5 separate regions of the Homo sapiens genome follow, and regions 2, 3, 4 and 5 are each linked to region 1. Evidence: fine-mapped expression QTL. A gene starts in region 1. Each other region holds a variant in brackets. All regions are shown on one strand. Distances are from middle to middle. Region 1 holds the start of NEDD4 (NEDD4 E3 ubiquitin protein ligase). Region 2 overlaps NEDD4 (NEDD4 E3 ubiquitin protein ligase). Region 3 overlaps NEDD4 (NEDD4 E3 ubiquitin protein ligase). Region 4 has its middle 25 kb from the start of NEDD4. Region 5 overlaps PYGO1 (pygopus family PHD finger 1).

Evidence for each region. PIP is the estimated chance that this variant, and not a neighbour inherited with it, causes the effect.
Region 2: its variant is fine-mapped to the expression of NEDD4 in whole blood (TOPMed, PIP above 0.99). The same link has a PIP of 0.9 or more in neutrophils.
Region 3: its variant is fine-mapped to the expression of NEDD4 in thyroid (GTEx, PIP above 0.99). The same link has a PIP of 0.9 or more in whole blood.
Region 4: its variant is fine-mapped to the expression of NEDD4 in prefrontal cortex (CommonMind, PIP 0.95).
Region 5: its variant is fine-mapped to the expression of NEDD4 in lymphoblastoid cells (GTEx, PIP 0.98).

What each region holds. Positions count from the first base shown.
Region 1 is chr15:55,990,245-55,996,582 of GRCh38, forward strand. It overlaps NEDD4 (NEDD4 E3 ubiquitin protein ligase), which reads right to left and starts at 3,368. Exons shown (of 29, transcript NM_006154.4): 1 at 3,267-3,368. The coding sequence starts at 3,311. RefSeq lists an enhancer at 2,616-3,398 and silencers at 2,901-3,250, 3,491-3,590, 4,377-4,574.
Region 2 is chr15:55,873,452-55,879,789 of GRCh38, forward strand. NEDD4 (NEDD4 E3 ubiquitin protein ligase) reads right to left here. Exons shown (of 29, transcript NM_006154.4): 6 at 507-557. Among named protein-coding and RNA genes, the nearest start is that of NEDD4, 120 kb to the right of the region's middle. The variant T/C (reference allele first, on the strand shown) is at 2,513.
Region 3 is chr15:55,940,001-55,946,338 of GRCh38, forward strand. All of the region lies in intron 4 of NEDD4 (NEDD4 E3 ubiquitin protein ligase), which reads right to left. Among named protein-coding and RNA genes, the nearest start is that of NEDD4, 50 kb to the right of the region's middle. The variant C/A (reference allele first, on the strand shown) is at 3,047.
Region 4 is chr15:56,015,398-56,021,735 of GRCh38, forward strand. No RefSeq gene overlaps it. Among named protein-coding and RNA genes, the nearest start is that of NEDD4, 25 kb to the left of the region's middle. The variant A/ATT (reference allele first, on the strand shown) is at 2,996.
Region 5 is chr15:55,567,224-55,572,223 of GRCh38, forward strand. All of the region lies in intron 1 of PYGO1 (pygopus family PHD finger 1), which reads right to left. Among named protein-coding and RNA genes, the nearest start is that of PYGO1, 19 kb to the right of the region's middle. The variant T/C (reference allele first, on the strand shown) is at 2,382.

The DNA of each region.
Region 1 (6,338 bases):
CTGGACCGCATCCCCGGTCCATGGAAAAACTATCTTCCATGAAACCGGTCCCTGGTGCCAAAACAGTTGGGGACTGCAGTTCTAGAAGATCAGAAACATGGCAGAACTGACCCATCCAGGAAGCTACTACCTCTCCCAGTCAGAAAGGTAGATGATCAGGAGTCATCACCAGAACTGATGACTTCAAGAATATAATCAATCTTGACGTCTGGAAGCCACTACCACCACTACTTCGGTGACTTCCTATCAATATGTACAAAGCAAGTTACCAGATACTGGAATACTTTCGCAGAAAATTTAGATGTTTACATGACTGTGCTTATCAGCAGAAAAAGCCAAAGAAACAAAACAATATGCTCCACCTCATTTCCACTCTGCAAATCTCAAGTAAGTGCACTTAACTGGGGAGCCTACTTTGGATCCAGTCCATTAATTTCAATGGAGTGTGGGAAACAGTGTTTAGTTTTCCCACCTCCATATCACAGGGAGGTGCATGGGAAGGAGGTGGGAAGTGATGCTCAATTCCAGTCCCCGCATCCACCACACTGCTCTCCAATAAAGATCAGTGCATGTTATTCTCTACTGTGAATCTCAAGTGACCAGAGCAAATCTGGTATAAATTATACTACACTTCCTCCTTTGTTTGTTAACACTTTAAAGGTAAAATCCTGCACATGCAGCCAGGGTGATCTCTTACTATAAGTCACTTATATGTGGAAGAAGAGCCAAAACTCACTGAAAAGTGAGAGAAAGGTATTATGATCTACATTTTAGCATACTTCAGTGCTAATATGCTCAGACACTGACTCAGCGACTATTCACTATATACTGATTAAATTACAATTCTTTCACTATCTTCTATCCCATTTCAAATTATTTTTCTCCCTGTTTTAGTTTCAAATTTAAAATAAGAATCCTCTCCTTTTGTTGTAATGAAAAAGCACTTTACTTTTAATCAACAGCAGAGGGCTGCCTATTTCCAGACTAGTCTGTGAGTTTTAGAAGTGACATAGCTGCAATGCTTTCTTCCTTTAACAAAAGGGGTGTTTGGGGGTGGGGAGGATGGGGGAGTGTGGTTTCAATCCTTCTTTTACTTTTGTGATAGACCAGAAAATAAATGGCAAATGATAGTGGAGAGGGCAACCTCCACAAGAAAAAAAGTGACTTTTATCTTTCCCTCAGTCCGAGGCTGAGACTGTCTTTTTTCCCTCTCTATCCCTGGTGCCTAGCACAATGCATGGTACAGAGCAAACAGTAAATGAATGTCTGTTGAATGAATAATCCAATTACAATGGAAGAAGTGGAAGACTCTTCATCATCATGTCTCTTATCTTCCTATCTCACTCCCTTCCTCAATGTGGACAAAATAGAGCGGGGACAGAAGCAAATTAGAGTCATGGAACTGACAGCCAGAACTCCCAGAATGTGAATGGGATAGGCCACAGTCCATGAAACTTCCTAGAAGTACAAATCCTTCAGCAAGTTCAGGAAATCCACATTTCAAAGGGTGGAGTTTCTGGCCTTTGGCCCCAGTTCCTTACCGACCACCCATTAACTGCCACAATTAGTTTTATTTCAGCTGGGCAGAGGGGTGATGATTGAAAACAGAGAAATTACTAAAGTAGATAATTAAAAACACTGATCATGTACCAAGAGGGAGAAAACAGATGGTGAATGATACCTTTGGCACTATTTTCTTTAAGATCAACTGGCTCTGCTGGAAGGCGGTGAGATGAGAAATCTGCAATTAGCAGGGCCTACCTGTGAATATAGCAGGGAAAGAAAGTCCAAGGTCAGCCTGATTGGGTTGGACACCACCTTGAAGTCAACTGCACTGGGCAGTCTACGTAGCAAGCAGGGAAATCTGACTGATAAGAAAGCGACCACAGGTGAAGTGCTGTATTATCTTCTGATCTCGTCTACAGAATAAAGGTGCCATTAGCTAGAATGATATCTTTAGCTGTAACACATTGACTATTGTTTCTGAGGGACTATGAGCCGCCACCATTTGTCCATCATCACTTTATTTCTCTTCTGGCAGCAATAGCTAGGAAATTAAATTCTAATCGCATCACGTAAGCATTCTCAAAATATCCTGAAATAACTGCATTAACAAATTGCCCACCCTTTATAAACAAAGAACTCTCAAGAGAAGTGTAAAATGTTTGACGACACCAAGGTACTAAGAGAAGGAACTATACAACTTAAATATTACAATACTTAAGCAAGCAGTATAAATTAGGTTGATGGATTTTCAGTTAACTGGGTCTCATCTTGATAAAAGGTACATGTGGCAGCTTAGTCAGCCAACAAGAAAGCAAAAAACTTGATTTTTTTCACTCGGAACCAGTCACTGTTAGACTACATGCAGCCTTTTCATCTCCCACCCATTTGCATTTTTGAGACAATCTCCAAGAACACACAGAAGCCACATATCATTTACGACGGAACAACCTTTCCAAATGGTCGTACAATATTTTTAATAAGCATAGGCATAATCAGCATTAGTTATTTAGCTGAAAAGAAACAGCTTTGCCTTCTTCAAATCCCAGAGCTTAATCTAGTTTTCAAAGGGAACAGATGTGGTAACTTCTTTATAAAGTATTTATACTTTTTTGGCTTCACTTTTTAACATCAACGACGACCGGTGAAATAAAGCATGAACTTCTCACACTAGACACTTGTTGCTAAAGAGGAGGAGGAAAATTTATGTTCCTGCTCTCCCATCCCTGTCTCTAGTTAGGGGATTAAAAAGGATTTCAGATAAAGAAGAAAAAAACAAACCAGCGAATGACAATTCACTTGGAACTCTCCAGACCGAAGTCCGTAAAGTTAAGTCGGCCCGGCCTCCGCCAGAGCAAGCAAATCAACAGCGGGGATGCTGCGACCGTCTCCCAACGCCTGGGAGCTCCGCACACCCGGCGGGGGTGGCAGGAAGGGGCTGGCGCGGTGATGTGGGTCCCCCGCCGACCGCCTAGCCCCCTCCTCAACACTTCCTGAAGGAAACTGACAAGTAAGGCGGCGGCCGCTCCGGGAAGGGGCGGGTGTGGACCCGACAAGCTTGCTCCCTCCAGCGAGCCCCCAGCGCCCGCGCGCCGAGCCGCCCCCACAGTCCCCGCGGCGCCTCGCGCGCTCCCCAGGCTCGCGCCGAGGGAGGAGGGGCTGACAGCAGAGCCTCCGGTCGTGGCCGCCGCCGCTACCTCCCCGGGTCCGGCTGCTGAATAACCCGAAGGGAAGCCCGCCCCGCAGCCCCGCGGTCCCCGCACCTCGTCCTCCAGGAGCCCGAACACCTCCACCGCGCAAGTTGCCATTTCCGAACGCTTCCAGCAAACCGGACGCGCTCGCCCCCGCCCAGGGCAGGCAACTGTGGAGGAGGAGGAGGAGAAGCGGGAGGAGGCGGGGAAGAGTTGGAGGAAGAGGAGGAGGCGCTCCCTCAGCGACAGCAGCGCCTCCCGCGGCGAGCGGGCACTAGCGGCACCCGGCAGCGCGGCGGGAAAAGGCCGGCGGCGCGCGCTCCTGGGGCTGGGCGGGGGCGCGCGTGGCGGGGCTCGGGGAGTGGGGAGGGCGTGCGGCGGGGCTCGGGTGGGATGAGCGCGCGCGGCGGGGACCATGGCGTGGGGAGCGCGCGTGGCGGGGCGCGCCCTCGGTCCCTTCCCGGGAGGTGGGTGGTTGACGGGCCCGCCGGGGAGCCAGGGAGCGCCGGGAAGCGCCGGGAAGCCAAGCTGCAGTGTTCCTCAGCAACAAGTCTCGCTGAGATCCGACCCAGAGTTCGGCCTCTGACTAGACGCCTGGGAATCCGTGAGCTTAATCCCCGCTTAAATCCCAAACGGAAAATCATAGCGCTTTCTTGTCGGTTAAGGGTGTCATTCCCATAAGAAGCTGGACCTGGGGACCGCCAGGGAAAGCCTGAGCGTGGCAGCAAATGGGGAGGCCTGGAGGGATCGCAGCAGTCTTGGACTCGGGATCTGAAATTCTCTCCCTAGGATTTGTAAACAGTGCCAGTTCCTAAGCTATTTGTTGTCCTATGGTCTGTCCATCTTTAAATCCCACCAGTAACAATCCAATCTCCAGGCTGACCCTCTAAACCTGCTTTAGCTGGGCGTTGATCCGCAGCACCACCAGAAGGCAGTGACGAAGAGGGAAAAATAAAGTGAACTAGGACCTCCTGTAGAATAACTCCTCCTGTGGAATAACTCCTCCTGTGGAATAAGGTTATGGAATAATCATGCTTTTTAATATTCCTGTCTGATGGGCTTTATAATTCCATAATTACAGGAAGACCTCCACCAAATAAGGCATCCATAAAAGAGTCTGGGGAGAATTATGAACACCCAGGCCACAATTTATATCATGTTGTTTTTATACATTTGCAGAAATTTGCAGAATTCTGCAATCTCAAAATCTAATTTTTATTTTCCTCAATGATTTCAGAATAACTCTGATTTATTTTTAACAGTTTAAGATGCTACGTGGGAACAAGGCTATAGCCCATATTACTGGTTTGTTACGTAAGATTTTTCTCGTACTTGGCCGGGCGCGGTGGCTCACGCCTGTAATCCCAGCACTTTGGGAAACCTAAGGCGGTGAATCACCTTAGGTCAGGAGTTCGAGCCCAACCTGGCCAACATAGTAAAACCCTGTCTCTACTAAAAACACAAAAATTAGCTGGGCGTGGTGGCGGGCGCCTGGAGTCCCAGCTGCTTGGGTGGCTGAGGCAAGGGAATCGCTTGAGCTTGGGAGGAGGAGGTTACAGTGAGCCAAGATTGCGCCGTTGCACTCCAGCCTGGGCGACAGAACAAGACTCCACCTCAATTGTCGTACTTTATGATTGGTAGGATCCATTTCATTCATATAATATGTATCAAAATTCTGTTAATACACAATTCAGATTTTATCCGTATTAGGGGGAAAGAGATGGCACTTAATCAAACATGACTACAAAATTACAGAATGGTCAGGAATTGTTGGCTTACCTAAATCGAAAAAGCCATGAGAGCATTAATTTGTTTTTTAAGTTGTCACATATCTGTGGGATTTGTGGGTTAAGAATAAAATAATCTGAAAATATTGTGTGCCCTTCTATTTTGCGAATATTTCCCTCATCTCTCATGATACACATTTTTATGTTTAATTTTAAGTTAGTTAAGTCATTTGAATTTAAGTTAATTCAGTGTCATTTCAGGGCACAATTACAAACGTGTAAAAACAGCTTCCGTTACTGCTACTAAAATTTAATGAATATATGAGAAGTATACACAGCCTAAAACTGGTAATTAAAAAAAAAAAAATCAGTAAATCCCCAAGGGATTATAAAGTAAAGCAAATTGGCCATTTGATGTATCCAATAGGTATTAGTGATGATACTTCTAAAGACCACTGATTTGACTCATGATTTCTTATTCTGTCTTTCCGAATATGAAATCATGAAGAATTAAACAGCTACCAATACAAGATGAACTAGAGTAATTATTGTATCCCGGTCAACAGCTAGGAGGGGCACCTGAAATTAAAGGAAGCTCAAATCGGGATGGTGATATCAGCTGGTGGTCCAATAACCAACCACCACTGAGAAAGCTGTTTAGAATGAAGAACTCCTCTACATATCACTCAACTGCGCAGAACTCTCATGAAGGCGTTTTGTCTACCTAGGCTGCCTTCAATTAGGTTCATGTTGATTTGGTTTGAGTGTGTGTATAACCATGTGAGGCACGTGTGAAGAATGTGACATGGTGCATAACAATTGATTCTGTGCCTCATACCTGTGCTAGGGATCATCCCAAGCCAAAATCCAGGCAATTCTAGCAACCTCCAATAGCATCACCCCTTCTATCTCTTGTTCTTGAGTCTTTTCTCCCTTCAAATCTGCCTTTACATGAGCCTCCAAACTGATTAAGAAGCAAGAAATGAATGAAAACCAGTAAACCTGGTCTAGACTTTCTAGTAGTCTGTATACGTAAACCTCTTTAACTCTGCCTATAGATTTCACTGTGATGCAGAAATTGTTTCTAGTTTTTAAAATATCACCCCCTGGGATCAAAATTGGATGTGGAATGTAACAATATGAAAGGTAATGATACGAAATGCACTTTAATGTTGGTAATTAATTCCCTAAGGGATATAAAAAAGTCTTGTTCAGAAGTTCTCCTTTAATTCTCTCTTACTCTTAATATCCCCTGGCTGCTTCCTTTCTAATAGTTAATGTTTGAGATTTTTAAGGTTCATTTTTTCTTCCACTGGAAACTCCCTGGACCTCATCCATTGCCATTGCCATTACCATAGTTTCAGCTACTTTCTTCATAGAGCCCATCTCAGATCCAGAGCTCAGTAGTGCAAGAAAT
Region 2 (6,338 bases), 120 kb before region 1:
ACTCTTATCTTCCAAGTTCAACTTGTATTATCTTTACTTCTTGCTTATTTTCTTAAGCCTCCATGTCAGACATGTGATTCAATAATGTTCTATTTTGCAATGTTTCCTGAATCTGTTTTTCTCCTTGCTATATTCTTAGTCCTGATTCTTAGTGTTTTATGTTTCCATTGTCGTAAACTATCTTAGTTTTCTTCTGTGAGCTTAGGCACTCCTCATTCTAGTTATTCAGCAGAATATTTTCAAACTAATCTTTTTTACACAATGTTTTCACAATGCCAACAAACATCAGAAATTCTCTATTTCTCACTGGGGTTCATGAACGGAAATCTTAAAGAGAAAATGGAAACGGAAAATTGAAATGAGTTTTTAGAAAACAGTATGCTCAATAAATAAAAGTAGTATACATTTGATAAATCAATTATTTACAGTAGCTATATTATATATGTAAGTATTTATTAAATTAAAAAAATAAGCCCAAAAGGAAAATCATGGACACCTATACCAACCGGTAATGGATAAAGTGGAACATCCACTTGACCTAGGAAATCATCTCTTGTCTATAAGAGAAGGAAGAAAAAATATAATTAGTAATACGCTCAATTCCTTTAGAAGAGTTTGATGAGATAGTGCCACCATTCACAGAAAATGTAGAGTTTTTTTTTTATTCAGTCATATGCAGCATCAATGGAAAATAAAAAGTAATGTGGTACAACTTCTGGTAATGGCAGAGTAGCATATATTAGATTAATCCTTCTGCAGATAACAATTATATTCTGTGACAAAATACTAAAAGAGCTATTTGAAAGTACAACAGAATGACCCCAAACAAGCAGAAACTGGAGGGATGTCAATCCTTCAAAGAAGGAACTACACTAGGTAAGATTCAGTATTTATATGGCTTTTCCTCTAGTAGTATTCTACAGTCCACATAATGCAGAGAGCCTAGAACTTAAGCTGAAATCTGCACTATTACTGGCTTGAGGAGTCAGAAGGCCTAGTTTGGGGTTGACAGCATATCTAGAAAAAGAGGAGAAACGTCCCAGAAAAAAAGAAGCCACCAGAGTTCTTCCAAATCTATATATAAACTCTTACCTAAATCCCTAGTTTTACTCTGAACTGAACAAGTGAAAATCAACAGATGGAAGACTGAGAGGGCTCAGCACTGATTTCAGCTGATGTTCACCAAAAGGGAAGCAGAATTTGGAGTTCAGCTATGTTAACTTGCTAGAACAAAAATCAACACTGGGCATGGAGGCTTACACCTGTAATCCCAGCACTTTGGGAGGCCGAGGTGGGCGGATCACCTGAGGTCAGGAGTTAGAGACCAGCCTGACCAACACGGTGAAACCTCATCTCTACGAAAAATACAAAAATTAGCCAGGTGTGGTGGCACATGCCTGTAATCCCAGCTACTTGGGAGGCTGAGGCAGGAGAGTGGCTTAAATCCAGGAGGCAGACGTTGCAGTGAGCCTGGACCATGCCACTGCACTCCAGCTTGGGTGACAGAGTAAGACTCCGCTCAAAAAGAAAAAAAAAAAGGAAATCAACTCTCCTCAGGGAAATATAATAAAATTCACTGTCTCTATTAGTTACTATATTCATTGTCCAGCCCACAATAAAAAAATTACTAGACATGCAAAGAAATAAAAAAAAAAACCCAGTAGGAAGAGAAAAAGTAATTAACAGAAACCAGCCACAAGATGACGCAGATCATGGAATAAGCAGACAAGGAAAATAAAGCAGCTATTATAAAGATGTTCAAAGGACTTAAAAGAAAAATAAGGTCATAATGAATGAAAAGATGGGGAACCTCAGCAGTGAAGGGGAAACTAAAAATGAATCAAATGCACATTTTATTTTATTTAATTTTATTTTTGAGACAGAGTCTTGCTCTGTCACCCTAGCTGGAGTGCAGTGGTGCAATCACAGCTAACTGCAACCTCTACTTCCTGGGTTCAAGTGATTTGTCTTGTCTTAGCCACACAGGTAGCTGGGATTACAGGCATGCACCATGCACTACCATGCCTGGCTGATTTTTGTATTTTTAGTAGAGACAGGGTTTCACCATGTTGACCAGTCTGGTCTCAAACTCCTGACCTCAGGTGATCCGCCTGCCTCAGCCTCCCAAAGTGCTGGGATTACAGGTGTTAGCCACCACGGCCGGCCAGATGTACATTTTAGAACTGAAAAATATAATACATGAAATAAAAAAATTCAATAAATGGGTTTAAAAGACAATTGAAGATGACTGGAGAAAAGTATGAACTTGAAGATATAGAGACAGAATTTATCTAATATGAAAAATAAAGGGAACTTGTGGAAAAATTTCAAGCAGTCTGACGTATGTGTAACTGGAGTTCCATAAAAGGGGATAGGTAATAGGGCAGAAAAATATTTGGGGAAAAAAACAGCCAAAATATTCACACATTTAGAAAAACACAAGCTGAGACAGTCAATAAAGTCAGTGAACTGAAGCAGGATAAACATAAAGAAAACATGGGTAGGCACACCA[T/C]TATTAAACGCTGAAAACAAAAGATAAACAGAAAATCTTGAAAGCAGCCTAAAATACATTACACACAGGAGAATAAGAATACAAATAATGGTTGACTTCTCGTCAAAAACAATGGAAGCCAGAAGACAACTGAATGATATCTATAAGTGCTGAAATGGAAAATGTACCAAGAATTCTGTATCTAGCAAAAACTATCCATAAAAAAGGGAAGGAAAATAAAGATACTTTCGGATAAAGTAGAGATAATTTGTCATCAGCAGACAAATTGTTGGCACTACAGAATATGCTATAGGAAGTTCTTCAGGCTGAGGATAAGTGGCACCAGATAGAAATTCAGATCTAAAGAGAGTAATAAAGAGCACCAGAAAATGGTAAATATGTGGGTAAAGTTTTTTTTTTTTAAGGTACCTTCTCAATCTTTTAAAGAACAAATTGTTGTATACAAAAAAAAAATTGTATCGCTATACTATGGGTTTAAAATATATGTAGATGTAATAAAAATGACAACATTGTGCACAAGATAGGTGGAATAATCAAATCTATATTGTTGCAAGACTTATATTTTATATAAAGTGGTATGATTGACATAAGTTAATCATTAATTGACTGCAGAGCTAAAAAGCACAGAGAAGAGTTAAAATGGAATATTGGAAATATCTGACTAACCCAAAATAAGGCAGGAAAAGAGAAACAAAGAAACAGATGAGAGGAACAGAAATAAACTGCACATTCTGAGAGCTAAATCCAGCCATATAAATTATGACAAACTAGTCCAATTAAAGACAGAGATTGTCAAGCTGAATAAAAATGCAAAATCTAACCATATGTTGCCTATAAAAGACATCTATCATTATTGTTTAAAAATATTTTATTAAATGTTTTTCTTTTTTTTTCACTTTTTTTTTCTTTTTTCTTTTTTTTTAAAGAGATGGAGTCTTGCCATCTTACGCAGGATGGTCTCAAACTCCTGGGCTCAAGCGAGTCTCCTGCCTTGGTGTTTCAAAGTGCTGGGATTACAGGTGTGAGCCACTGTGCCCAGCCAACTTCTCATTTTAAAAGAATTTCAGATTTAAAAAAATTGCAAAAATACTGCGAGAGAATCCTCATATACTTTTCACCCAGATCCACCAAATGTTAACATCTTAAATAACCATATTATGATGATCAAAACCAGAAATACTATTAACTACTCTACAGACTTGACTCAAAATTCACCAACTGTCTGCCTAATTTTAGTCCAGGGTCCAATTCAGACTCATATATTGCATTTAGTAGTCCTGTCTATTTAATTTCTTTAAATCTGGAAAGTACCTTAGTCTTTCTTTGTCTTTCATAATCTTGACATTTTTGAGCAGTACTGACTAGTCATAGAACATCCTTCTAATATTTCTTCATGGTTGAATTTAGATTATGCATTTTTTGCAAGAATACCATAAAGGTGATGCTTGTGCCCTTCTCAGTGCATCATATCAGGAGGCACACGATACTGATTTGTTGCATTACTAATGGTATTAACTTCAATCATTTGGTTAAGGTGCTGTCTTCCATGTTTCTCAATATTTTCCCCTTTGTAATTAACAGTATCTTGTGGGAAAAGCCTTTGAGGTTATGTAAATAGCCCATTTCTCATCAAACTTTTTCTCACAAACTTTAGCATCCATTGATGATTCTTGCCTGCAACAATTATTACTGTGGTGCTTGCCAAATGTTGACTTTCTATTTCTACCATTTCCATTATTCTTTTTATATTAATTAATTATTATTCTGCTTAAGCAAAGAATTTTCCCCTTCCTCCCATTTATACATTCTAATTTATATCATCATAGACTCATTGATATTTGTTTTATATTATCTTATAAGATATAATCCATTATTGTTACTTATTTTTTTACTCAAATTGTCCCAGATATGGTCATTGAGAGTCACTTCAGGTTAGTTTTTGTGCATTTCTGATATCTTCTCAATTTTTTTGTGTACTTCCTTACTTTTTGGCACCACAAAAATGATTCAGGTTCAGCATATACTCTTCTTATCCCTGCTCTACAATCAATCAGCCACTTGTCCAGAGAACCCTGATAAATTTTACTGGAGAATCATATTTAGATATAAAGATCCGGGTTCAAGGTGCTTATTACTTTCAGGCTCAAGAGATGAACTTTGAATTCAAATATACAGATAAATTGAAGATAAAGGTATGGAAAAAATAATCAGGTATACAGTAAGTATAAGTGGCTATAATAATATCAGACAAATTAGATTTCATGATGATGAGTATTACCACAAATAAAAAGAAACATTTCATAATAATAAAGAGATCAATTCATAAAATATTACTATAAGTCAATAATATGAATCAATAATAAACAGAAAAACTGTCCCATTAAAATGGGCATAAGACTTGAACAGATATTTCAAACAAGAAGATAAATAAATGGTAAATATTATATGAAAATATGCTTATCACTATTAATCATCAGGGAAATGCAAATTAAAATCACAATGCAGTACTACTTCAAACCCCCTGGAATAGCTAAAATAAAAAAAGTCTGACAAAAACAAATATTGGTCAGGGTGTGGTGCAATCAAAACTCTCTTATAAAGTTAAACATATACCAGTATATGACCAAGAAATTCTGCTCCTTGTATTTTCTTAAGAGAATAAAAACAAATATCCTCTAAAATACTTCTTCAAGAATGTTCACAGAATTTCATTCATAATAGCCTAAACTGGAAATAAATGTCCTTTGAAAAATAAAACTGTGGGATATACAACTAGTAGAATTACTCAGCGATGAAATGAAATGAACGGATATACAAAATAACATATATAAATCTCAAAGAAAAGTGGTTTTTTTGTTTGTTTGTTTTGTTTTTTTGAGACGGAGTTTCGCTCTTGTCGCCCAGGCTGGGGTGCAATGGCGCGATCTCGACTCACTGCAACCTCCGCCTCCCTCGTTCAAGCGATTCTTCTGCCTCAGCCTCGCAAGTAGCTGAGATTACAGGCATGTGCCACCACAACCAGCTAATTTTTTTGTGTTATTAGTAAAGACAGGTTTTACCATGTTGGCCAGGCTAGTCTCAAACTACTGACCCCAGGTGATCCACCTGACTTGGACTCCCAAAGTGCTGGGATTATAGGCATGAGCCACAGTGCCTGGCCAGAAAAGTTTAATTATAAAAAGAAGATACAAAAGAGTACATGCTGTCCGATTTAATTTACATGAACAGTAAAAGAAAGAAAAAAGGGAGACTGGAAGAGTAGATGACAGCAGAGAGATAAGTGAGAGAATGAGTGAAAGTCCTAATACCAAACAATAAGGACCTCTCCAACTCCTTTGTTTCACTTGGCTTCTAGAATACTGGCAGACAAATATATACTTCCCAGGAAAGAAAATTCCTCTCTGGAACAACTAAGCAACCCAATGAGACAGACTTATAGATATTAAATCCAGGAAGTCTTCCAATAAAATGACTAATTCTCTCTGCTCACCCCAAAGTGAAGTCCACTAGTCAGTAGATGCCCATGAACAAAACCCTTCCAATAAATATTGGAATATTATACATTATGGGCAGTTATGGACTACTAAATATTTGGGGAAAGTTTATAACATGAAACACACAGACCTAAATGAAAGACGGGAGTCTGATGAATAAGAATCAAGTCAAATTGCAAGAAAAATACCTCAGAAAAACCGTAATATTCCCAGAGATAAGAGGAGATGAACCACCTGTCAAACAAGATAGGAGGCTGCAAAAAAGAAGCAATTAGAGGACAAGAAATATCTCTTAGAAATAAAAAATATAACTCAAAAACTTCAAGATAGAG
Region 3 (6,338 bases), 50 kb before region 1:
ATATACATACAATAGAATATTATTCAGCCTTCAAAAAGGAAACCCTGCCATTTCCAACAAAATGGATGAACCTTGAGGACACTACCCTAGGTGAAATAAGCTAGTCCCAGAAGAACAAATACTGACTATCTTACTCACAAAAAGTATCTAAAATAGTCAAATTCATAGAAGCAGAGAATAGAATGGTGGTTTAATACTATATTATACACCAAAACCTTTGTGAAGAGGGTACATATCAAGTGTTCTTACCACAAAAAAGGGGGTGATAGGAGGAAACTTTTGGAGGTGATGGATATGTTTATGACTTTGATTGTGGTGATGGTTTCACAGCTGTATGCATATGTTTAAACCTATCAAACTGTATGAATTAAATATGTGCAGGCTTTTTCTATATGAACTATACCCCCAATAAATCAGTTAAAATTTTGTTTAAATGGCTTATTTTTCTCATTAACATCTCTAATTCCAAAGTAGTCCTTCCTCCCTCTCTCCCTCCTTCCTCCTTCCCTCCTCCCCCTTCTCTCTCTCTCTCTCTCTCTCTCTCTGCCTCTCTGCCTCTCTCTGTCTCTTTCTTTTGGGACTGTCTCACTATGTTGCCCACGGTATCCTCGAATTCCTTGGCTCAAAGAATTGTCTCCCATGTCAGCCTCCAAAGTAGCTGGGTCTATAGGTGTGTGCCACCATGCCTTGTGAAGAGGGTCGTTTTTTTTTGGTAGAGATGGGGTCCCACTATTTTGCTCAGGATGACCTTAAACTTTTAGGGGGCCCACCCTGGCCTCTCGAAGTGCTGGTATTATAGGCATGAGCCACCATGCCAGGCCAAACATTCTTTCTAATAAAAGAATAAGATCATCAAAAAGAATGGCAATATTTTTAAATTATAAGCACCTTAAATTTTTTAAAATAAAAAATAAATTATAACATTAATTCCTCTAACAGATATCCATATTTTCTGTTTCTACTTATATTGGTTTTAGTATATTTTGGCTTATAAGAATTTATCCATTTAAACTGAGTTGTTAAAATTACAGGCATAAAATTAGTTACAATATTACCTTTTAAAAAGTATCTGTAGGTTCCCTCCTCTGATTCCTAATATTGGTCATCTGAGTACTCTCTCTGTCTCTCTCATATAAGGCCAGCTGTTGTATATCAATTTCATTAATTTTTTTGAAGATCCATCCTTGGTTTTATTTATTTTCTCTACTTTTTGTCCATTTTCTTGTCCATTGATTTCCACTCTTATTTCCTTCCTTCTTTTTCTTTAAAGAACTTAAGGTGGAAGCTTAGATCATTGATTTTGAATATTTCTTCATTTATATACAAGTATTTAAAGGTATAAATTAATCTCTAAGCACTGAAATAGCTTCATCCCACATTTGGTATGTTATGCTTTAACAATCAATCAGTAAAAATGCTTGTTAATTTCCCTTTTATTTTCTTTTTTGATCCATGGCTTATTCAAAAGAAACTTGTTTAATTTCTAAACATTTGTGATATACATACGTGTGTTACTGAATTGTAACTTAAATCTGCTGTGATCAGAGAACATACCCTGTTAAATTTCTTTTTTTTTTTTTTTGAGACAGAGTCTCACTCTGTCACCCAGGCTGGAGTCCAGCAGCACAATTTCAGCTCACTGCAACCTCCGCCTCCCAGGTTCAAGCGATTCTCGTGCCCAGTCTCCCAAGTAGCTGGTATTACAGGTGCGCACCATCACACCCAGCTACTTTTTGTATACTTTTTTTCTTTAGTAGAGGCGGGGTTTCATCATATTGGTCAGGCTTGTCTCAAATTCCTGACCTCAAGTGATATGCCTGCATCGGCTTCCCAAAGTGCGAGGATTATAGGCGTGAGCCATTGCGCCCAGCCAATCCTGTTGAATTTCAATCCTTTTAACTGTACTGAAACTCGGTTTGTGGCCCAATATGTGGTCTATCTTGGTAAATGTTCCATGGGCATATAAAAAGAATATACACTTGGGTATTAGCTGTAGTGTACTATACATGTCAAACAGGTTAACATGATTGGTAGTGTTGTTCAAATCATCTATATATTTACTATTTTTTTTTTGTCTAGTTGTTGTATCAGTTACTAGAAGTGGTAAAATCAACTATTGTGGATTTGTTTATTTATTTAGTTCTGTCAATTTTGACTTCGTAATTTTAAAGATTACTAGGTCCATACACATTTCAGATTGTATGTCTTCTTGTTGAATTCACTCTTTATAATCATGAAATGCCCTCTTTATCTCTGGCAATACTGTCCTGAAGTCTAATTTGGCTAATGTTAATACAACCATTAACATATTTTTTCTGGTGTTTGTATGGTATCTCATATGGTTTGGAATTATGTCTCTGCCAAAATCTCATGTCAAATTGTAATCCCTAATGTTGGAGGAGGGGCCAGATGGGAGGTGACCGGATCACGGAGGCAGACTTCCCCCTTGCTGCTCTGGTGATAGTAAGCGACTTCTTATGAGATTTGGTTGCTTAAAAGTGTGTAGTACTTCCCCCTTCATTCTCCTCCTCCTTCTCTGGCCATGTTAGATGAGCCTGCTTCCCCTTCACCTTCTGTCACAATTGTTAAGTTTCCTGAGGCCCCCTCATCCAGGCTTCCTGTACAGCCTGTGGAACTGTGAGTCAATTACAGCCGTTTTCTTTATAAACTGCTCAGTCTCAGGGAGTTCTTTATAGCAATGCAAGAACAAACTAATACAGAAAATTGGTAATGGGAAGTCAGGCATTGCTATACAGATACCTGAAAATGTGGAAGCAAGTTTAGAAGTGGGTAATGGACAGAGGTTGAAACAGTTTGGAGAGATCAGAAGAAGAAAGGAGGATGATGGAAAGATAGAATTTCCTAGAGACTTGTTGAATGGTTGTGACCAAAATGCTGATAGTGATATGAACAGGAAAGTCCAGGCTGAGGTGGTCTCGAAGACAAGGAATCTTTTGGGAACTGAAATAAAGGTCCCTCTTGCTATGCTTCTACAAAGAGACTGGCAGCATTGTGCCCCTGCTCTAGAAATCTGTGGAACTTTGAA[C/A]TTGAAAGAGATGATTTACGGTATCTGGCAGAAGAAATTTCTAAGCAGCAAAGTGTTCAAGAAGTGGCCTGGCTGCTTCTAACCATATGCTTATATGCATTCACAGAAATGATCTGAAACTGGAACTTATATTTAAAAGGAAAGCAGAGCATAAAAGTTGGGAATATGTGCAGCCTGATCATGTGGTAGAAAAGAAAGCCCCATTTTGTGGGGAGGAATTCAAGCCAGCTGCTGGAGCTGAATGTTCATAGCCAAGACAATGGGGAAGATGCCTTGAATGCATTTTAGAGATCTTTGTGGCAGCTCCTCCTATCACAGCCCCAGAGGACTAGAAGGGAAGAATGATTTCATAGACCAGGCCCAGGGCCCTGCTGCCCTACACAACCTTGGGACACTGCTCTCTGAGTCCCAGCCACTCCAGCTCCAGCTGTGGGTAAAAGGGCCCAGATATGTCTCAGGCCGCTGCTCTAGAAGGTTCAAACCGTAAGTCTTGGTGGCTTTCACATGGTTTTAAGCCTGCAGGTGGGCACAGGGCAAGAGCTGAGGCTTAGGAGCTCTTCCTAGATTTCAGAGGATGTATGGAAATGTGTCGATATCCACACAGAAGTCTGGATATTGCAGGGGCAGAGCCCTCATGGAGAACTTCTATTAGGGCAGTGTGGATGGGAAATGTGGGACTGGAGTCCCCACACAGGGTTCCCACTGGGACACTGCCTAGTGGAGCTGTGAGAAGTAGGCCACTATCGTCCAGACCCCAGAATGGGAGATTGACTAACCGCTTGCACTGTTTGCCTGCAAAACCCTTAGGCACTCAACACTAGCCTGTGAAAGCAGCTGAAGGGATTGTACCTTGCAGAGACACAGGGGTGGAGACACCCAAGGCCTTTCGGAACCCACCCCTTGCATCAGTGTGGCCTGGATGTGAGACACAGAGTCAAAGGAGATTATTTTGGAGCTTTAAGATGTAATGATTGGAAGATGGCCAAATAGGAACAGCTCCTGTCTGCAGCTCCCGGTATGATTGACGCAGAAGACGGGTGATTTCTACATTTCCACCTGAGGTGCCTGGTTCATCTCATTTGGACTGGCTGGACAGTGGGTGCAGCCCACAGAGGGCAAGCCGAAGCAGGATGGGGCATTGCCTCACCTCGGAAGTGCAAGGGGTCAGGGGATTTCCCTTTCCTAGCCAAAAGAAGCTGTGATAAACTGTACCTGGAAAAACAGGACACTTCTGGCCAAATACTGTGCTTTTCCCATGGTCTTATCAACTGGCAGACCAGGAGATTCTCTCCCATGCCTGGATTGGCGGGTACCATGCCCACAGAGCCTTGCTCACTGCTAGCGCAGCAGTCTGAGATCGACCTGCCAGTCTGCAGACTGGTGGGGTAAGGGGTGTCCACCATTGCTGAGGCTTGAGTAGGTAAACAAAGCAGCCGGGAAGCTGAAACTAGGCAGAGCCCACCTCAGCTCATCAAGGCCTACTGCCTATATAGACTCAACCTCTGTGAGCAGGGCATAGCTGAACAAAATGCAGCAGAAACTTCTACAGACTTAAATGTCCCTATCTGACAGCTCTGAAGAGAGCAGTGGTTCTCCCAGCATGGGATTTGAGCTCTGATAACAAGAGACTGCCACCTCAAGTGGGTCCCTGACCCCCGTGTAGCCTAACTGGGAGACACTTCCCAGTAGGGGCCAACAGACACCTCATACAGGCAGGTGCCCCTCTGGGACAAAGCTTCCAGAGGAAGGATGAGGCAGCAATATTTGCTGTTTTGCAATATTTGCTGTTCTGCAGCCTCCACTGGTGATACCCAAGCAAACAGGGTCTGGAGTGGACCTCCAGCAAAATCCAACAGATGTGCAGCTGAGGGAACTGAGTGTTAGACGGAAAACTAACAAACACAAAGGAATAGCATCAACATCAACAAAAAGGACATACACACCAAAACCCCATCTGTATGTCACGAACGTCAAAGATGAAAGGTAGATAAAACCACCAAGATGGGGAGAAACCAGAGCAGAAAAGCTGAAAATTCTAAAAACCAGAGCGCATCTTCTCCTCCAAAGGATCGCAGCCCCTCGCCAGCAACAGAACAAAGCTGGAAGGAGAATGACTTTGATGAGTTGACAGAAGTAGGCTTCAGAAGGTCGGTAAAAACAAACTTCTCCAAGCTAAAGAAGCATGTTCTAACCCATTGCAAGGAACCTAAAAACCTTGAAAAAAGGTTAGCCCAATGGCTAACTAGAATAAATAGTGTAGAGAAGACCTTAAATGACCTGATGGAGCTGAAAACCATGGCACAAGAACTTTGTGATACATGCACAAGCTTCAGTAGCTGATTCAATCAAGTGGAAGAAAGGCTATCACTGATTGAAGATGAAATTAATGAAATAAAGTGAGAATACAAGTTTAGAGAAAAAAGAATAAAAAGAAGCAAAGAAAGCCTCCAAGAAATATGGGACTATGTGAAAAGACCAACTCTATGTTTGGTGTAGCTGAAAGTGACAGGGAGAATGGAACCAAGGTGGAAAACACTCTACAGGATAATATCAAGGAGAACTTCCCCAACCTAGCAAGGCATGACAACATTCAAATTCAGGAAATACAGATAACACCACAAAGATATTCCTCGAGAAGAGCAACCCCAAGACACATAATTGTCAGATTCACCAACGTTGAAATGAAGGAAAAAATGTTAAGGGCGGCCACAGAGAAAGGTGAGGTTACCCACTAAGAGAAACCCATTAGACTAACAGCAAATCTCTCAGCAGAAACCTTACAAGCCAGAAGACAGTGGGGGCCAATATTCAACATTCTTAAAGAAAATAATTTTGAATGCAGAATTTCATATCCAGCCAAACTAAGCTTCATAAGAAAAGGAGAAATAAAACCCTTTATAGACAAGCTGAGAGATTTTGTCACCACCAGGCCTGCCTTACAAGAGCTCATGAAGGAAGCACTAAACATGGAAGGGAACAACCAGTACCAGCCACTGCAAAACCATGCCAAATTATAAAGATCATCGATGCTATGAAGAAACTCCATCAATTAACGAGCAAAATAACCAGTGAACATCATAATTACAGGATCAAATTCACACATAACAATATTAACCTTAAATGTAAATGGGCTAAATGCCCCCATTAAAAGACACAGACTGGCGAATTAGATAAAGAGTCAAGACCCATCAGTGTGCTGTATTCAGGAGACCCACCTCATGTGCAGAGACACACATAGGCTCATGAGAATAAAGGGATGGAGGAAGATCTATCAAGCAAATGGAAAACAAAA
Region 4 (6,338 bases), 25 kb after region 1:
TAGGAGGTTCCAAACTTTCCCACATTTTCCTGTCTTCTTCTGAGCCCTCCAAACTGTTCCAACCTCTTTGTGTTACCCAGTTCCAAAGTCGCTTCCACATTTTTAGGTGTCTTTTCAGCAATGCCACACACTACTGGTCCCAATTTACTGTATTAGTCCACTTTCATGCTGCTTATAAGACATACCCTAGACTGGAAAGAAAAAGATGTTTAATTGGACTTACAATTCCAAATGGCTGGGGAGGCCTCAGAATCATGGTGGGAGGTGAAAGGCACTTCTTACATGGCAGTGAAAAGAGAAAAAATGATGAAAAAGCAAAAGCGGAAACCCCTGATAAACCCATCATATCTCATGAGACTTATTCACTATCATGAGAATAGCATGGGAAAGACCAGCCCCCATGATTAAGTTACCTTCCCCTGGGTCCCTCCCACAACACATGGGAATTCTGGGAGATACAATTCAAGTTGAGACTTGGGTGGGGACACAGCCAAGCCATATCAGGTGGCTTCAATAACTTGCTCACCAGAGCTCCCAATCCGCCATCCAGTTGCATTCATCTTAGATGTATCACTTAGGGGACTGAACCTGGACACCTATTGTTTTAGTTAAGAGGCTTTCCACCTCAATTAACAGAAAACCAACTCCACTCCTTAAACAGTGAAGGTGGCTTATATAACCAAATGTCTTGATATATGCAGACTTCAGGTACCATATAGTCATTGCCGGACAGGTTCTTCCTCTCCACTGCACAGACAAAATCAATCCACTGAGATGGCAGCACTGCAGTAGAGAAAGAGTTTAATTGACATGAGGCAAGCCCATGAGGGAGAACTGGGCTCAAATCAGTCTCTGAAGATTTGGAGGTTGGGAGTTTTTAGGGAGTAGGTGCTGCTGATTGGTTGGGGATGAAATCGTAGGGGTGTGGAAAATAGTCCTCATGGGCTGAGTCTGCCTCTGGGTGGGGCCACAGGATTCATTGAGTCATGAGTTCAGGTGGAGTCCATCTGAAAAACATCTCAAACTAATTATAGGTTCTGTAATAGTGATGTTATATAGGAGCAATTGGGAAGGTCACAAATCTTGTGACCTCTGGTCACATGACTCCTGAGCAGTAAGGGATTAGAAACTATGCCTACATTTTAGCAGAGTTCAGCACCCTCTCATAATCCGAAGCTTGTGGCTTTTTATTCGTTTTACAGATGCAGTTTAGTTTTGGGAAGGGCTGTTATTATCCCTGCTTTAAGGTTAAACTATAAACTAAATTCTCCCCATGGTTAGCTTGGCCCACACCCAGGAAAGACCGAGGATAGCTTGGAGGTCAGAAGCAAGATGGAATCAACTATGTCAGATTTCTCTTACTGTCATAATTTTGCAAAGGCAGTTTCAACATAATCAAAGTTCTAGCCTGATTTTCTTGCAGTGTTTGCGAGTCCATTCTCCACGTGTAGGTTTTGTTCTCAGGCTGGCTTCCCTCAAGGACACAAATTAAGCAACAGGTTTCTTTGCTTACATTCAATATGGAACAGTGAGATCTACTTTCCATTATTATCACTCAAATATAAAGAACTTTCCCAAAAGCTATTAGTAGCTCAAATTTTATTGGCCAACACTGAGGTACATTCCCATTCCTAAACCATTTGCTGGCCAGGGATGAGATTACATGGTTAGTTTACCTTAACCAGTCCTTACTTTGTGAGCTGAGGATGGTGTTAGCTTTCCCTAATCCCAAAGGTTGGATAAGGATGGATACCAGAACAAAATTGGGGATCTATGAGAAGGAAGGTGTGGGAAATTGATTACAGGTAGGCACCAAGAATATCCACTATATATATATTTTTTCTACCTTCTTTAAATTCTCACATTATTATTCCCTTGATTTTTGTGGTCCAACTGCACTGGCTTTCTTTTGGATCATCAAACATGCCTTGCTCCTTGTCACCCTAAGATCTTTGTTCAGACTATTTTCTTAGCCTGGAATTCTCTTCTCCCACTCTCTTTCCTGGTAAAATGCTACTCACTTAAAAGTCATTTCTTTCATAAAGCCTTCCCTCAGCCCCTTACTACATTATGTGCCTCTTCTTCCAACTCAAACTAACTTAAGCAAAAGGAGAATACAGTCAGTTTTCATTACGTGCAGTAGTTATGTTCTATCAAGTTGCCATAAACACTGCATTAGTGAATACTGAACCATTACTCCCAGAAGACTTAAAAGGTTAGGTTCCAGGGAGCCTCCGGTCACAATATTCTCATCAATGGATCAATACATAACCTTGTTTTATGTGTGTTTTGGCTTAAAGACATCTCATTTAATGCGTATTGTTGATTCATTAACACTGAACTACCAACATGCTAACTCATGCCTGAACAAAGCTTATCTAACCCATATATTTTCTCTGTAAGGCACATCTCAGCCTAGTATTCAGGAACGCTAACCAAAACAGCACTTTAGCACTAAGCTCCAGGGCCATTTTAAACAGTGAAAACAACGAAAAGCACAAAATGTGAAAAACGTGGCACTAAATAGATTGCAAAAAGGACATTTGTTTACAGTGTGAGAGGTGAAGCAAGACAGCAGACGTCTTGTTGAACCTCAGCTGGAAACATGCACATCAGGTGACTCAAATTTTTCACTACTCTGTACATACATGTCAGTGAATGATTGTGAAAGCACTGTTGGGGCTCAGAAAACAATACCCCATAGTATGGCACTGTGGCATGCTGAGTGCTTTGAACTGAAGTTGAACCAAGGTCTCACTGACTTTCTCCTGTGCTCTTGTCTCTTGTCCTTCTCTCCTGAAGAGCAAGAGGGAGCTCTCTCTGAATTTCCCTTACTTGCCTAAAAATGGATCCTCCAAAAGGGACTCATTTGTCCCCTCTCTGCAATCTCATTAGCTAGGGAAGATTAATTATATCACAGGAGAGGAGACTAAAGGTTGGTACCTTGCCCAGATAGACTTTGTCAAAAGTTGCCACCTATTCTTCTTCTTCCTGT[A/ATT]TTTTTTTTTTTTTTTTTTTGAGATAGGGTCTCATTCCTATCACCCAGGCTGGAGTGCAGTGGCACTATTGTGGCTTACTGCAGCCTTGAGCTCCCACGCTGAAGGGGTCCTCCTGCCTCAGCCTCTTGAGTAGCTGGGACCATGGCATGTGCCTCCACACCCAGCTATTTTTTTTTTCTTTTTTTGTAGGCATGTGGGGTTTTTCCATGTTGCCCAAGCTGATCTCAAACTTCTGACCTCAAGCGATCTGGCTGCCTCAGCCCCAAATGCTGGGATTACAGACATGAGCCACTGCCCCCAGCCCAACTGTTCTGAGGGTTGCTACTTGAGATATTTTCTCTGTATAACAAGACAACTTTGTTCACTATAAATTTCCTCCTCTCACCCTCTCATAACCTGTCACCACCTCCCCACAGAAGCCTCAAGCCCCTATTTCCTTCTATAGCTCAGGATGCTATAAAAACTTTGACCATCTACCCCTTCTTTGAATCTTATAATTTGTGAGGCTCCCACGTGCATGCACATAATAAAACTGTATGCCTTTTCTCTTGTTAATCTGTATGCTGTCAGTTTATTCCAGAGACTCAAATTATCAAACCTTCAGAAAGTAGGGGGAAGGTTTAAAACTCCCTTATAGTTTCAAGAGTATTAATCTGGGGGTTACAAATACGCTTTAGTAGGTAAGTAAATTTGCAAATACAGAATCCATGAATAATGAGTGTGGTGGTTAATATTAGGGGTCAACTTGATTGAAGGATGCCTACATAACTGGTAAAGTATTGTTTCTGGGTGTGTCTGTGAGGGTGTTGCCAGAGGAGATTAACATTTGAGTCAGCGGACTGGGAGAGGAAGACCCACCCTCCATGTGGGTGGGCACCATCCAATTGGCTGCCAGAGAGGCTAGAACGAAGCAAGCAGAGGAAGGTGGGATAAGCTGGCTTGCTGAGTTTTCTAACTTTCATCTTTTTCCCATGCTGGATGCTTCCTGCCGTTGGACATCAGACTCCAGGTTCTTCGGGGACTCTTGGACTTACACCAGCGTTTTGCCGGGGGCTCTGTCGGCTGCACTGTCAGTTTCCCTACTTTTGAGACTTTTGGACTCGGACTGAGCCACTACTGGCTTCCTTCTTTCTCAGCTTGGAGACAGCCTATCATGGACTTCGCATTGTGATCGTGTGAGTCAATTCTCCTTAAGAAACTCCCTTTCATGTATACATCTACATCCATCCTATTAGTTCTGTCCCCCTGGAGAACCCTGACTAATACAATAAGAATCAATTGTATGTTGCTGGATATACCTGGAAAGTCCAAGGAGGTAAATCTGATTCCAGGAATGACTAGATCTGAGAGTTTCAGGTCTCTCTTTTTTCCATCCCTCTGTTGTCTCTTCATGGCTTTGTTCTTGAAGAGGTTCTCTCTACTCAGCAGCACAACAGCTACCAGTAGTCCCAAGTCTATGTAATTCTTAGTTTACCCCCAAGCCCATAAGATAAACCCTTTATCTCCCAAGCTCTATGTATTTAATCTAAGAGAATAGTCTGATTGGGCTTTCTTGTACCCATTCCCTCATCTAGGGCAGGTGCAAGCGTGTTAGCCCCACCTGAACTGCATGAACAGACTCCTTACTGCGAAGAGGGGCGCTGTAATCAAAAGAAAGGAAAAGGAGCACAGTTGAATCTAATTAACAGCTGTTAATTATACCTGGCACATTTTTAGAATTCCGTGAAATGAAAAATGAACATTCTTTAAAAAATAATTTAGTTTTTCAACCATTGTCCACTCCCACCCCAAGTAGTCCTGTTTGTATTGTTGCCATCTGTGTGTCCATGAGTACCCAATATTTGGCTCACACTTATAAGTGAGAACGCGGTATTTGGCTTTCTGTTCCTGCGTTAATTCACTTAGGATAATGGCTACATCCATGCTGCTGCAAAGGACATGATTTCATTTTTTTTTATGACTCCGTAATGTTTCTGTTGTGTATGTACCACATTTTCTTTATCCCGTCCACCACTGATGGGCACCTAGGTTGATCCCATGTCTTTGTTATTGTGAATAGTGCTGCGATGAACATATAGATGCATATGTCTTTTGGTAGAATGATTTATTTTCTTTTAGATAGATACCCAGTAATGGGATTGCTGGGTCAAATGGTACTTTTGTTTTCAGTTTTTTGAGAAATCTCCAAACTGCTTTGCACACTGGCTGAACTAATTTACATTCTCATCAACAGTGTATACATGCTCCCTTTTCTCTGCAGCCTTGTCAGCATCTGTTATTTTTTGACTTTTTAAGAATAGCTATTCTGACTGGTATGATATGGTATTTTATTGTGATTTGATTTGCCTTTCTCTAATGATTAGTGATATGGAGCATTTTTTTCATGTATTTGTTGGCTGCTTGTGTTTTTTTTTTTTCTTTTTGGAGAAGTGTCTGTTCATGTCTTTTCTCCGTTTTTAATGGGGTTATTTGTTTTTGCTTGTTCAATTGTTTAAGTTACTTATAGATTCTGGATATTAGACCTTTGTCAGATGTGTAGTTTGCAAATGTTTTCTTCCATTCTGTAGGTTGTCCATATAATTTGTTAATAATTTATCTTGCTGTGTGGAAGCTCTTTAGTTTAATTAGGTCCCACTTGACAATTTTTGTTTTCGTTGCAATTGCTTTTGAGGACTTAGTCATAAATTATTTCCCAAGGCCAATGTCCCTAATGGTGTTTCCTAGGTTTTCTTCTAGTAGTCTTATAGTTTGAGGTCTTAAATTTAAATCTTAATCCATCTTGTAATAAGATAGGTGAAATGTAGGGGTTGAATTTCATTCTTCTGCATATTGCTAGGCAGTTATCCCAGCACCATTTATTGAATAGTAAGTCCTTTTTCCATTGCTTATTTTTGTCACCTTCGTCGAGATCAGATGGCTGTAGGTGTGCAGCTTCACTTCTGGATTCTGTATTCTGTTCCATTTATCTATGTGTCTGTTTTTGTTGTAGCCTTGTAGTATAGCTTGAAGTCAGGTAATGTGATGCCTCTGGCTTTGTTGTTTTTGCTTGGAATTGCTTTGGCTATTCAGACTCTTTTTTGGTTCCATATGAATTTTAGAATAGTTTTTTTCTAGTTCTGTGAAAGATGACATTGGTAGTTTGATAAGAATAGTGTTGAATATGTAGATTCCTTTGGCAGCATGGCCATTTTAACAATATTGATTCTTTTTCCATGTTTTGTTTTGTTTTTTCTTTTTTTTGAGATGGAATCTCCCTCTGTTGCTCAGGCTGGAGTGCAACCTCTGCCTCCCAGGTTCAAGTGATTCTCTTGCCTCACCCTACTGAGTAGCTGGGATTACAGG
Region 5 (5,000 bases), 420 kb before region 1:
TTTGAGACAGGGTCTGGCTCTATCACTCAGGCTGGGTGCAGTGGTGTGAAGACAGCTAACTGCAGCCTCAAACTCCTGGGCTCAAGAGATTCTCCTACCTCAGCTGCCCACGTGTCTGGGACCACAAGCATGTGCCACCATACCTGGCTAATTTCTTTATTTTTTGTAGAGACAGGGTCTCCCTTTGTTGCCCAAGCTGGTCTCAAACTCCTTTTGCCCATTTTTAATGGGGTTGTTTGTTTTTGGCTTGTTCAATGGTTTAAATTCCTTATAAATTCTGGATATTAGACCTTTGTCAGATGCACAGTTTGTGAATATATTCTCCCTTCTGTAGGTTGTCTGTTTACTCTGTTGTTTCTTTTGCTATGCAGAAACTCTCTAGTTTAATTAGATCCTACTTGTCAATTTTTGTTTTTGTTGCAATTGCTTTCAAGACTTAGTCATATATTCTTTTGCAAGACTGTTGTCCAGAATGGTGTTTCCTGGGTATTCTTGGATTCTTATAGTTTGAGGCCTTAGATTTAAATCTATAATCCATCTTAATTTTTGTACATGGTGATAGGTATGGGTCCATTTTCATTCTTCTACATATGGATAGCCAGCTATCCCAGCGCCATTTACTGGGCCTTTCACCATTGCTTGTTTTTCTCAATTTTGTCAAATATCAGATGGCTACAAGTATGTGGCTTTATTTCTAGGTTCTCCATTCTATTGGTCTAAATTGTTTTCGTACCAGTACCATGCTGTTTTTGATACTGCTGCCTTATATTTGAAGTAAAGTAATGTGATGCCTCCAACTTTGTTCTTTTTGCTTAGGATTGATTTGGCTATTTGGGCTCTTTTTTGGTTCCGTATGAATTTTAACACAGTTTTTTCCAATTCTGTGAAAAATTCCATTGTAGTTTGATAGAAATAGTGTTCAATGTGTAGACTGCTTTGAGCAGTGTGGCTATTTTAATGAGATTGATTCCTTCAATTCATGAGCATAGAATGTTTTTCCATTTGTTTGTGTCATCTATGATTTATTTTATCAGTGTTTTTTAGTTCTCCTTGTAGAGATGTTTCACCTCAATGGTTAAGACGTATTTCCTAGGTACTGTGTGTGTGTGTGTGTGTGTGTGTGTGTGTGTGTGTGTGTGTCTGTAAATGGGATTGCTTTCTTGATGTGGCTCTCAGCTTGTATATTACTGGTATATTGAAATGGTACCAGTTTTTGAACGTTGATTTTGTATCTTGAAACCTTGCTAAAATTGTTTATAAATTCTAATAGCCTTTTGGTGGAGTCCTTAGGGTGTTGTAAGTATAGAATCATATTGTCAGCAAAGAGAAATAGTTTGTCTTCTTTTCCTATTTGGATGCCTTTTCTTTCTCTTGCCTGAGTGCTCTAACACTTCCAGTACTGTACTGAATAGGAGTCATGAGAGTGGGTATGCTTGTCTTGTTCCAGTTCTCAGGGTACTGCATCCAGTTTCTGCCTATACAGTATGATGCTGGCTCTGGGTTTGTCATAGAGGGCTCTTATTATTTGGAAGTATGTTCGTTCGATGCCTAGTTTGCTGAGGGTTTTTATCGTGATAGGATGTTAGATTTTATCAAAAGCTTTTTTCATGTCTATTAAGATGATTATATGATTTTTATGTTTAATTCTGTTTATGTGGTGAATCACACTTATTGATTTGCTTATGTTGAACCAACCTTGCACCCCAGGACTGAAACCTACTTAATCATGGTGAATTAACTTTTTGATGTGCTATTGAATTTGGTTTGCTAGTATTTTGTTAAGTATGTTTACATCTATGTTCATCAGGGATACTGGCCTATAGCTTTCTTTTTTTTTTCATTGTGTCCTTGCCAGGTTTTGGTATTGGGATGATGGGACTCATTCTACTTTATAGAATGAGTAAGGAAGGAGTTCCTCCTCAATTTTTTAGAATAGTAGAATTGGTACCAGCTCTTCTCTTTTTGAATTTCTAGTAGAATTCAGCTATAAATTCATTTGATCCTAGGGTGTTTGTTTGTTTCATTGATACTTTGTATGGATTTTGGTGTCTCAATTTGTTATATTCAGCTCTGATTTAGTTATTTCATTTCTTCTGCTAGCCTTGAGATTAGTTTGTTCTTGTTTTTCTAGTTCTTCTAGGTGTGATGTTAGATCATTAATTTGAGATCTTTCTAACTTTTTGAGGTGATGTTCAGTGCTACATATGCTCCTTTTAATACTGTTGCCACTGCATCCCAGATATTTTGGTATGTTGTGCCTCTGTTTTCATTTATTTCAAAGAATTTTTTAAATTTCTGCCTTGATTTCATTACCCAGATGTCATTTCATTACCCAAAAGTCATTCAAGAGCAAGTTGTTTAACTTCCATGCAATTGTGTGA[T/C]TTTGAGAGATCTTCTTGGTACTTCTATGTTTATTCCACCGTGGTCCAAAAGTACTGTTGGTAGGATTTCAATTTTTTTGAATTTATTGAGACTTGCTTTACAGCCAAGCATGTGGTCAATCTTAGAGTATGTTCATGTGCAGATGAGAAGAATGTATATTCTGTGGTTGATGGATGGTGGCTGTGCCTGCCATTGGGGTCCTATAGACATATCTACCACTCCACAGCAGGCACTCCAATCTCTAGCCTGAGACTAAAATGCCTATATAGCTGCACTGCCAGGTCACCAAGGAATTCCTGATTTTGTACACAACCAGATTTAAAATGGCATCCTGCTCTCAGGGTCTTGGAAAATACCTGCAGCTTTTCCCAGTGTCTTTCCCTCACAGTGTCTCCAAGATTTTCCCCATGTTAGCTCCAGGGCTTGGGAGAAACAAAGGGCTTTCCCTCTACCTGAGTTGCTCAGATCCCCAGTGGAAAGGTCAGTCAGAGAGAGGGGCTCTCTACCTCTTTCACATACTTAGGCCTCACTCACTTTTATCAACTGGATGCCATCATGGGGGCTGTTTGCCAGTGTTCTCCTCTCTGGGATTGAGGGTGTCCTTCACAATTCCATTGGATACTCATTTTCCTTTTTGAATTAAAGCTCACAGAGTTGATCTTTATGTACTATCTTGCTATTTCCAGGTGGCTGAGGCATGCCAAAAGCCTCTAATCTGCCATCTTGGGGAAAAAGAAGCCTGCTTTTGTTTTTAAGAAAAATTTTTTCAAATTTTACTCTGATTTATCAAAAATATCTAAACTAGTCATTTTCAATCTTGGCTGCATGTTGGAATCACTTGGGAGCTAATATTCCTTGCCATTTTTCTACTGAGTGTTTCATCCTTTTCTTAGTGATTTATGGAAGCTTTTCATATACTAAAAAAAAAAACTGAACATATTTAAACTGTAAATACTTTCATCAGGTTATTATGTTTTGATTTCTTGTTATAAAATTTTAAATACATTTTAAATTTTAGATTTTTACATTTATAAAAATGTGAAGATAGTAAAGAGAATTTGCACATACCCTGTACCCAGTTTCCTCTATAATGCTATCCAGAATTTTAAAAAATAATTTTATGTAATAAAATGCATCAATATTTTATTTTTTAATTCTGGGCTTTGTCTTATGCTTAAAAGAGCAATCCCCATTTTTAGAGAATAAAACATAATTCTCTCAGGTTTTTTTCCTAATATTTTTATGGCTTAATTTTTTAATTTTAACTTTTAATTGTAGTAAAACACATATATAATTTACCATCTTAAAGTATACAGTTCAGTGGTATTAAGTATATTCACATTACTGCATAACCAACCTCCAGAATGTTTTCATCTTGTAAAACTGAAACTATATCCATCAAGCAACAACTCCCCATTTTCCCCTTCTCCATCCCCTATGATCCTCATCTACTTTTAGCTTTTATGAATTTGACTACTCTAGATATTTTACACAAGTAGAATCATCCAGTACTTGTCTTTCTGTGACTGACTTATTTCATTAAGCATAATGTCCTCAAGGTTCTATAGCATGTGTCAGAATTTCCTTCCTTTTTGTGGCTGAATAATATTCCATGTATAGTATACACATACTACATTCTGTTTATCCATTTATCTGTAGATGCATACCTCGGTTGTTTCTACCTTTTAGCTACTGTGACTAATGCTGCTAAGAACATACATGTTATAATACCTCTTTGAGACTCTATTCTCAACTATTTCGGATATATACACAGAAGTGAAATTGTTGGAGAGTTTATCCTATGATATGGTATGGCTGTGTCCCTACCCAAATCTCATCTTGAATTCCCATGTGTTGTGGGAGGGATCTGGTAGGAGGTAACTGAATCATGGGGGCAGGTCTTTCCTATGCTGGTTTTATGATAGTGAATAAGTCTCACGAGATCTGACGGTTTTACAAACAGGGGTTTCCCTGCACACGCTCTCTCTTTGCCTGCCACCATCCACGTGAGATGTGACTTGCTCCACCTTGCTTTCCACCGTGATTGTGGGGCCTCTCCAGCCACATGGAACTGTAAGTCCATTAAACCTCTTTTTATCTATAAATCATCCAGTCTTGGGTATGTCTTTATCAGCAGCGTGAAAATCATCCAGTATTCGTCTTTCTGTGACTAGACTAATACATCCTATTTTCAATTTTTTGAGGAACCATCAAGCTATTTTTTCGTAATATGGCCATATTTTTATGTCATATCTTTACTCCATTTGGAATTTATTTTGGGATAATGTGAGGTAAAAAACAATGTTATTTTGTTCCAGATGGCTAGCCACAACAGGGAATACTATTCCATTTATTAGAAGTCTTCCTCTGTGTCCCTCAATAGGGTTTTTAGGGAGTTTTTATCTACAGATTCAATATAATCTCCATCAAAATTCCAAGGGCATCTTCCACAGAAAAAGAAAAAAAATCCTAAAATTCATATGGAACCACTAAAGATTCTGAATAGCCTAAGCAATCTTGACAAACAAGTGAACAAAAAATCACTTCCTGATTTCATACTATATGACAAAGCTACAGTAATACGGGCATAAAAACACACACATTCACCATGGAACACA